3 separate regions of the Homo sapiens genome follow, and all the other regions are reported to be linked to region 1. Evidence: microRNA targets listed by miRTarBase, many of them from high-throughput screens and not tested one by one. Region 1 holds a microRNA gene; each other region holds the end of a gene's coding sequence.
What was found. The annotated mature microRNA hsa-miR-548g-3p reads AAAACUGUAAUUACUUUUGUAC and lies in region 1 at 1,154-1,175, shown strand. An mRNA with a match to its seed (bases 2 to 7 or 8) in the 3' UTR can be bound and repressed. Matches are read on the target gene's strand: a 7mer-m8 pairs with bases 2 to 8, a 7mer-A1 pairs with bases 2 to 7 and ends in A, and an 8mer does both.

Region 1 (3,149 bases):
TGCAACTTTTTCTTTGCTTATCTGAAACATAAAAAAAGTCTTTTATCTGTGATTCTAACATTTAAAAAGATGTTCATTCAAAAATTCCCCCCTTCAAGGGATGTCTGCCATTAAGTGAAGGATGACAGACACCTAGACTTCTGTGCGTGTAATTTCCTCATCCCCATCCCACTAGAGAATGGAAATGCTAAAATGGCAGTATTACCACCTAGCTGAGATTGACATAAAAAATTAGTTTGTCCTTAGGGAAGATTCAAGAGCTTTTGTACGTGTTACAGCTTTTAGAATAATTATTAAGAAGGCAAGGAGAGCCTTCTAGCTGGTATAGCTTTTGCTAAAACATCTCACAGAGTTTTTAAAATGAGACACGTACATGTAACCACTTCTATCACATAGACTTTTCTGGAAAATTCCTTAAAAATGAATATACAAAGCATTATTTGAGCAACACAAATTCAGAAATAATATGAGAGTTTATAAATAACAGTCTTCCTTGCCACTTTGACTATGTATGTGTTCGTGCATAAAACCTATTAAATTCTAATGTGATAAGCCATTATGTAAGCTTTGCTGAACCTGATTTTTGAAAGATTTTGTGAGAGGAAACAAAAAACGTGATTATGAAAAGAGGGTATTGTCATTATTTTTAAAAAACTAATCTAGGTTTTACTTAATGCTTCAAATAAATTATAACCTGTTCAGTTTCCATTATCATGGTCATGAGAATGGATTATCTCCAATGATTAGCTTCAACTTGGAGCATTACCTATTTTTTTTCTAAATATATGATTACTTCAGAGTAGAAGATTACTAGTAAACAAAAATGGATTCATCGATACTTCTTTTCTCTCTCTACCTAAGACAGGGTTTGGATAGATCCAGTCGGAAGCCATTATTTCCTGCCTAAGCCTTGGTTTAGCGATTAGAGAAATGATAATTAACATTTGTCTAGTCATATTAAGTATATCCAAAGCTATGCTATAATTTCTAAGTTGATATAACAAAAGTTAAAAACTTCTTGTAAATACAGATAAGCTTATCACTAAAATCTATGAACATTTACACTTAGCAATTATTAATCCTATCTACCAACATACTTACTATTAGGTTGCTGCAAAAGTAATCATGTTTTTTTCCATTGTAAGTAATGGGAAAAACTGTAATTACTTTTGTACCAACCTAATAGCAACATCAAATTATATTTGATATATAGTCATTGTGAGATATATATATATATATATATATATATATACGTATAAAATACACATATATCTCTCTATATGAACAAATATTAATGGAATACATTATCAAAAACAATTAATGGCACTGGAGACTCAATAATGATCATACAAGGTCTGGCCCCAGATCTCATGAAACATATTCTGTAGAGGCTGGCAGCCAAGAAAAAAAAGAACACAAGAAAAATACCGGATAGGAATATAGTTTTTGAAGAGATTAAAATGTAATGTGATAGAGAATGGTTGAGGGGAGGCTACTTTAGACTTTGTGATCCAGGTAAGACTTTGAAGGTTGGTACCATTTAGTTTGAGATTTGAATGACAAGAAGGTACCACTATTTGCAGATCACAAGGAAGTGTGGTTCACGGATTAGGAACAGCTAATGCAAAGGCCCAAAAATAGGGACAGTTTGGCTTGCTGGAGGAACCAAAAGGCCAGGGGGACTGTAGAGTTGCAGGGTGGTAAGTTAGATGGCTGAGGTCTGAGATGGGGTTGAAATATAGGTAGGAGACTGATTACATATTGTAGTGTCAGTCAGGGCTTTGAATAAGGGCTTTGAATTCTAGACTAAGTGCAAGACAAAGCCATCAGATTTTATGTAGGTGAGAGATAGGTCAAGAAAACCTATCAGGAAGGCCACTGGAGGAAGAGAGGACAGTTATTAGGCCAGTGAAGTTGGCCAGTTAAGACACAGTAGTGTCTTAGACCAGCTGGTAGTTGTGATAAAAGTATACTTTACTATCTTAGCCATTTAGTTATTTTAAAAACCACTTCTCTGTTTAGTTTTAGTTCCTATTTTTTTTTCCTTTTGACAGTAAAAGTGCTTTTTCCTTTGGAAATAGACTGCTTCAATTTGTGCCCACAGTTACTATTATTCAAGTTGCATCTAGGAAATAATATTTATCCCATAAACCATCAACAATTATGCAAAACAAGAAATATTAAAAATACAAAGATAATAGCGTGCCCTGATTTCTGCCTTACATAAAATCCTCTCCAGTTTGCCTAAGGAATAAGGGCTTGCTTTCTCAAACACTTATTTATGTGAACTGGGGCAATATACTTTTCTTTTCTGTTCTCTACTTTATAGTTTTGTAAAACAGCAATAGTGTCATGAGGCTGACATACCTCTGAAAGATACTAGATGAGATAGGGTATAAAAAGTTAGTTTGTGAATGCAAAATTATTATAAAATGTGAAGAAAGATAACTGTGATAAATAAGATGATGAGCTGTCAGTTAACTATTTTACCATACCATGTCACTTTTTATATGTAATTTGATATTTTCTATATGAAGTATTATATAATTTTATATATAATTATATTTCATATATTTTGTATAATAACTTATATATAATTTTTTAACTTTTAAAAAAATTTTGCAGGGAATGAGGTCTTGTTATGTTTCCCAGGCTAGTCTCAAGCTCCTGGCCTCAAGTGATCCTCTCCCACCTTGGCCTCCCAAAGTACTAGTATTACAGACCTGAGCTACCAAACCTGACCCTCATAGATGTTTTTTACTTTTTTTCTCCAGCCTTTTCTAATTGCCTCAGTCATTTTTTTTTCCCAAAGAGTATAGCTGTGGTTATTTTGTATGGGGATAAGGGAGCATGAGCAGGATGATTAGAAATACATTTGCAGTTATTTTTTCACAATGGCAACATTTAAAAATATGCTTACAAAGGAATGTCAGGAAAGATAACCATACAGATACTTCCTCCTTTCTTTCTCCTTCATAACCACACTCTCATTTGATTCTTTCCTTGCTATTGTATTTTCCCTCCAATTCTGTTGCTTTTATGGACATAAATTTCTGATGAGGTAAAAGCTAATACAATAAAGAAGTTTATTAACACATCTCCAGTCACAAATGAGTTTGGCACGTGCCGATACTGGTCAATTACAAAAC
Region 2 (3,000 bases), not on the chromosome of region 1:
CTGATGGATCTTTACCTGAAGATGAAACCAGTATGGCGATCATCATGCCCTGCTAAAGAGTGCCCAGAATCCCTCTGCCAGTACAGTTTCAATTCACAGCGTTTTGCTGAGCTCCTTTCTACGAAGTTCAAGTATAGGTATGAGGGAAAAATCACCAATTATTTTCACAAAACCCTGGCCCATGTTCCTGAAATTATTGAGAGGGATGGCTCCATTGGGGCATGGGCAAGTGAGGGAAATGAGTCTGGTAACAAACTGTTTAGGCGCTTCCGGAAAATGAATGCCAGGCAGTCCAAATGCTATGAGATGGAAGATGTCCTGAAACACCACTGGTTGTACACCTCCAAATACCTCCAGAAGTTTATGAATGCTCATAATGCATTAAAAACCTCTGGGTTTACCATGAACCCTCAGGCAAGCTTAGGGGACCCATTAGGCATAGAGGACTCTCTGGAAAGCCAAGATTCAATGGAATTTTAAGTAGGGCAACCACTTATGAGTTGGTTTTTGCAATTGAGTTTCCCTCTGGGTTGCATTGAGGGCTTCTCCTAGCACCCTTTACTGCTGTGTATGGGGCTTCACCATCCAAGAGGTGGTAGGTTGGAGTAAGATGCTACAGATGCTCTCAAGTCAGGAATAGAAACTGATGAGCTGATTGCTTGAGGCTTTTAGTGAGTTCCGAAAAGCAACAGGAAAAATCAGTTATCTGAAAGCTCAGTAACTCAGAACAGGAGTAACTGCAGGGGACCAGAGATGAGCAAAGATCTGTGTGTGTTGGGGAGCTGTCATGTAAATCAAAGCCAAGGTTGTCAAAGAACAGCCAGTGAGGCCAGGAAAGAAATTGGTCTTGTGGTTTTCATTTTTTTCCCCCTTGATTGATTATATTTTGTATTGAGATATGATAAGTGCCTTCTATTTCATTTTTGAATAATTCTTCATTTTTATAATTTTACATATCTTGGCTTGCTATATAAGATTCAAAAGAGCTTTTTAAATTTTTCTAATAATATCTTACATTTGTACAGCATGATGACCTTTACAAAGTGCTCTCAATGCATTTACCCATTCGTTATATAAATATGTTACATCAGGACAACTTTGAGAAAATCAGTCCTTTTTTATGTTTAAATTATGTATCTATTGTAACCTTCAGAGTTTAGGAGGTCATCTGCTGTCATGGATTTTTCAATAATGAATTTAGAATACACCTGTTAGCTACAGTTAGTTATTAAATCTTCTGATAATATATGTTTACTTAGCTATCAGAAGCCAAGTATGATTCTTTATTTTTACTTTTTCATTTCAAGAAATTTAGAGTTTCCAAATTTAGAGCTTCTGCATACAGTCTTAAAGCCACAGAGGCTTGTAAAAATATAGGTTAGCTTGATGTCTAAAAATATATTTCATGTCTTACTGAAACATTTTGCCAGACTTTCTCCAAATGAAACCTGAATCAATTTTTCTAAATCTAGGTTTCATAGAGTCCTCTCCTCTGCAATGTGTTATTCTTTCTATAATGATCAGTTTACTTTCAGTGGATTCAGAATTGTGTAGCAGGATAACCTTGTATTTTTCCATCCGCTAAGTTTAGATGGAGTCCAAACGCAGTACAGCAGAAGAGTTAACATTTACACAGTGCTTTTTACCACTGTGGAATGTTTTCACACTCATTTTTCCTTACAACAATTCTGAGGAGTAGGTGTTGTTATTATCTCCATTTGATGGGGGTTTAAATGATTTGCTCAAAGTCATTTAGGGGTAATAAATACTTGGCTTGGAAATTTAACACAGTCCTTTTGTCTCCAAAGCCCTTCTTCTTTCCACCACAAATTAATCACTATGTTTATAAGGTAGTATCAGAATTTTTTTAGGATTCACAACTAATCACTATAGCACATGACCTTGGGATTACATTTTTATGGGGCAGGGGTAAGCAAGTTTTTAAATCATTTGTGTGCTCTGGCTCTTTTGATAGAAGAAAGCAACACAAAAGCTCCAAAGGGCCCCCTAACCCTCTTGTGGCTCCAGTTATTTGGAAACTATGATCTGCATCCTTAGGAATCTGGGATTTGCCAGTTGCTGGCAATGTAGAGCAGGCATGGAATTTTATATGCTAGTGAGTCATAATGATATGTTAGTGTTAATTAGTTTTTTCTTCCTTTGATTTTATTGGCCATAATTGCTACTCTTCATACACAGTATATCAAAGAGCTTGATAATTTAGTTGTCAAAAGTGCATCGGCGACATTATCTTTAATTGTATGTATTTGGTGCTTCTTCAGGGATTGAACTCAGTATCTTTCATTAAAAAACACAGCAGTTTTCCTTGCTTTTTATATGCAGAATATCAAAGTCATTTCTAATTTAGTTGTCAAAAACATATACATATTTTAACATTAGTTTTTTTGAAAACTCTTGGTTTTGTTTTTTTGGAAATGAGTGGGCCACTAAGCCACACTTTCCCTTCATCCTGCTTAATCCTTCCAGCATGTCTCTGCACTAATAAACAGCTAAATTCACATAATCATCCTATTTACTGAAGCATGGTCATGCTGGTTTATAGATTTTTTACCCATTTCTACTCTTTTTCTCTATTGGTGGCACTGTAAATACTTTCCAGTATTAAATTATCCTTTTCTAACACTGTAGGAACTATTTTGAATGCATGTGACTAAGAGCATGATTTATAGCACAACCTTTCCAATAATCCCTTAATCAGATCACATTTTGATAAACCCTGGGAACATCTGGCTGCAGGAATTTCAATATGTAGAAACGCTGCCTATGGTTTTTTGCCCTTACTGTTGAGACTGCAATATCCTAGACCCTAGTTTTATACTAGAGTTTTATTTTTAGCAATGCCTATTGCAAGTGCAATTATATACTCCAGGGAAATTCACCACACTGAATCGAGCATTTGTGTGTGTATGTGTGAAGTATATACTGGGACTTCAGAAGTGCAATGTATTTTTCTCCTGTGAAACCTGAATCTACAAGTTT
Region 3 (3,000 bases), not on the chromosome of region 1:
GGGGGTAGTGGCTTCTGCCTGTAATCCCAGCACTTTGGGAAGCTGAGGTGGGAGCAGCATCACTTGAGCCCTGGAGTTTTGAGACCAGCCTAGACAACATGGTGAGACCTTGTCTCTACAAAAAATACAAAAAATTAGTGGGGCGTGGTGGCACATGCCCGTAGAACCAGCGACTCGGGAGGCTGAGACAGGAGGAACCACCTGAATTCGGGGAGTTCAAAGTTGCAGTGAGCAGTGATTGAATCACTGCACTCCAGCCTGGGCAAGAGCAAGACCCAGTCTAAAAAAAAACCACCACTGCTCCAGGGGTCCAGGGGTCAGGCACACTCAATGGTAGTAATTGCTGCCACTATTTTTTTTTTTTTTTGAGACAGGGTTTTGCTTTATCACCGAGGCTGGAGTACAGTGGTGTGGTCATGGGTCACTGCAACCTCCATCTCCTGGGCTTAAGCGATCCTCCCACCTCAGCCTGCCACCTAGCTGGGATCATAGGTGTGCACCACTGCGCCCAGCTAATTTTTATTTTTTGTAGAGATGGGGGTCTCACTATGTTGCCCAGGCTGGTCTCAGACTCCTGGGCTCAAGCAGTCCTCCCACCTCGGCCTTCCAAAGTGCTGGGCTTACGGTGTGAGCCAGCGCACCCAGCCTTGCTGCCACTGGTGTAGGTATTTACTATGTGCCAGGCACTGCTCTATCTTCCCTTGCTGAATCCCCAAAGTAGCCTCAAGGACACAGGTGCTATTATTTCCCATTTTACAAATGAGAAAACTGAGAACACAGATAGTAAATAATTTCCCCAAAGTCTAACAGCTAGTAAGCAAGGAGGGCTGGATTTGAAACCAAACTCCACCACTCACAGCTTTTTGGAAGGTAAGCGGAAAGGGGCTGAGTGGATTCCCTTCTGATCATTACTGTTTGAAACATCGTGGGCCCTTTGACACTTAGCCTCTGACCTCTTGCTGTTCTCTCTCCATTCCAGCAGTGTCCATCCCTCAGCCTCAGAGCCAGGTGAAAAGATCCCCCTCGAACAGTGCCTTTGACAAGCCTTAAAGAAAAATCCCGTCACGTGCGGCTACTCGGGCTTCTCTTAAATGTACAGGGAGGGCAGGAGGGGTGCGTGGGGGCTGATCTAGCGAAGTACTCACATCTAGGCAGAGTTTAAAAAGTTGGTAGCAGGGCACGGTGGCTCCTGCCTATAATCCCAGCACCTTGGGAGGTCGAGGCACGAGGATTGCTTGAGTCCAGGTGTTTGACATCAGCCTGGGCATCATAGCAAGACCACATCTCTAAACAAAATTTTAAAATACGGTGGCTCACGCCTGTAATCCCAGCACTTTGGGAGGCCGAGGTGGGCGGATCACAAGGTCAGGAGATCAAGACCATCCTGACCAACATGGTGAAACCCCGTCTCTACTAAAAATACAAAAAAATAAGCCAGGAGTGGTGGCGGGCACCTGTAGTCCCAGCTACTCTGGAGGCTGAGGTGGGAGAATGGTGTGAACCCGGGAGGTGGAGCTTGCAATGAGCCAAGACCACGCCACTGCACTCCAGCCTGGGTGACAGAGCGAGACTCTGTCTCAAAAAAAAGAAAAATAAATTAAAAGTTGGTGATTTAATGAAAATTGTCTCCTTCACTGACATTAGCCGAGAGGTCAGAGGTCACACTGTAGACACCAGCTGTCGAGGCACAGGCGCTGCTCGCTCCTCTTAGGCAACTCTTAGGACTTTAACACTCCAGGGAAATCATCATGAAGTCAAACCGCTGCAGGGAACAGTCACACTGGCCCCAGGCCACACAACAATATCACTGGCAGGTTTTATCTTCTCTGAGTAAGTAAGATAAAGTGAAAAGCCTAGTTTAAGGAGCCGGCTTAGCTTGTTCAAAATCCCTGGGCCTGGCTTAGAGCAAGTAGAGACAGGTGTGGGAAAGGAAATAAATCAGACCAAGCTGAGCCCATCATTAAAGTTTAATTCTCTAGAAAGTTTAGTATGAAGTATTTGACATACAAAAAGCCATAAAGAATGTCACGCACAGCTTGCCAGGAGCAAAAAAAAAAAAAAAAAAAAAAAAGACGAAAGAAAAAGCACGTTACAGTGAACGTCCATGTACCCATTGCCCAATTGGAGAAAGAAAACATGCCCAGTGTATTAAAGCCCCTGGTGTGTCCTCCCTGCCTGCCTCCTCTGAGTGAAGCATAATCCTAAATGTGGTTTCTTGTGTTATTCTAGTCTTTTTTTTTAAAGAAAAATCTTTCTGCCAATGGGGATAATGGCTCCATGTGGCCGAGGTGAGACTAAGAATCTGGAGAAAGAGCATCAGTCTGATGTAGCTTTTATTGAGTAAAGGAAAAAGGGAATTCAGCCGCATGATACAGAGGTTCCAGTTGATCAGAGTGCGCAAACACCCTTCCTGTCTGCGTGATGGGAACCGCACCAGCACACGGGGCACGCGGAAGCCACTGCCGCAAGGAGATGGTTCCCACTCTCACGCACATGAGCAGCTCCTGGTCAGTCCCAAGAGGCAAGGGCAGAGGGCATGGTGGCTCTCACAGAGCTACTTTACAAATAAACTGTGTGTCTTCCTCAGGAGTCTCTTACAACACTTTTAAAAAACTGAACAGAAAATAGGGCAAAGGGCCAGGTGGCAGTGCCATGAGGCACATGGAATGTCCTGGTCTGTGGAATCGTGGAGGGTGACAGGAGCAGCATGATCAGGCATTGTATGACGAGGATGACACGGTGCCACCATGGCCTGTCCAGTTGGTGTGGATAAACTGCCCTGGTTTGGCCAAGAGTTCATAGGTGTGAGCCCCGAAGTAATCCCGCTGAGCCTAGGAAACGAGAGAGTAGGTTGGTCAGGACAGTCCATGGCGCACGCCCCCGAGGGGCCAGCCAGGTTAATCCCTGCTCCACAGGCTTACCTGGATGAGGCTGGCTGGAAGCATCTCATGTCTGTACCCGTCATAGAAGGAGAGGGCAGTGGTAAAACAGGGCATGGGA

Region 2: miRTarBase lists RAG1 as a target of hsa-miR-548g-3p. Seed matches in the 3' UTR shown: 7mer-A1 at 1,522-1,528.
Region 3: the mRNA of PGD is a reported target of hsa-miR-548g-3p. Seed matches in the 3' UTR shown: 8mer at 2,567-2,574.

The regions. Positions count from the first base shown.
Region 1 is chrX:32,639,512-32,642,660 of GRCh38, reverse strand. It overlaps MIR548F5 (microRNA 548f-5), which reads left to right and starts at 1,102; the gene lies at 1,102-1,187. The region is part of intron 11 of DMD (dystrophin); the gene reads left to right.
Region 2 is chr11:36,575,957-36,578,956 of GRCh38, forward strand. It overlaps RAG1 (recombination activating 1), which reads left to right. Exons shown (of 2, transcript NM_000448.3): 2 at 1-3,000. The coding sequence ends at 480. Among named protein-coding and RNA genes, the nearest start is that of RAG1, 9.4 kb to the left of the region's middle.
Region 3 is chr1:10,419,461-10,422,460 of GRCh38, reverse strand. It overlaps PGD (phosphogluconate dehydrogenase), which reads right to left. Exons shown (of 13, transcript NM_002631.4): 12 at 2,922-3,000; 13 at 1,950-2,831. The coding sequence ends at 2,712. Among named protein-coding and RNA genes, the nearest start is that of CENPS, 9.5 kb to the left of the region's middle.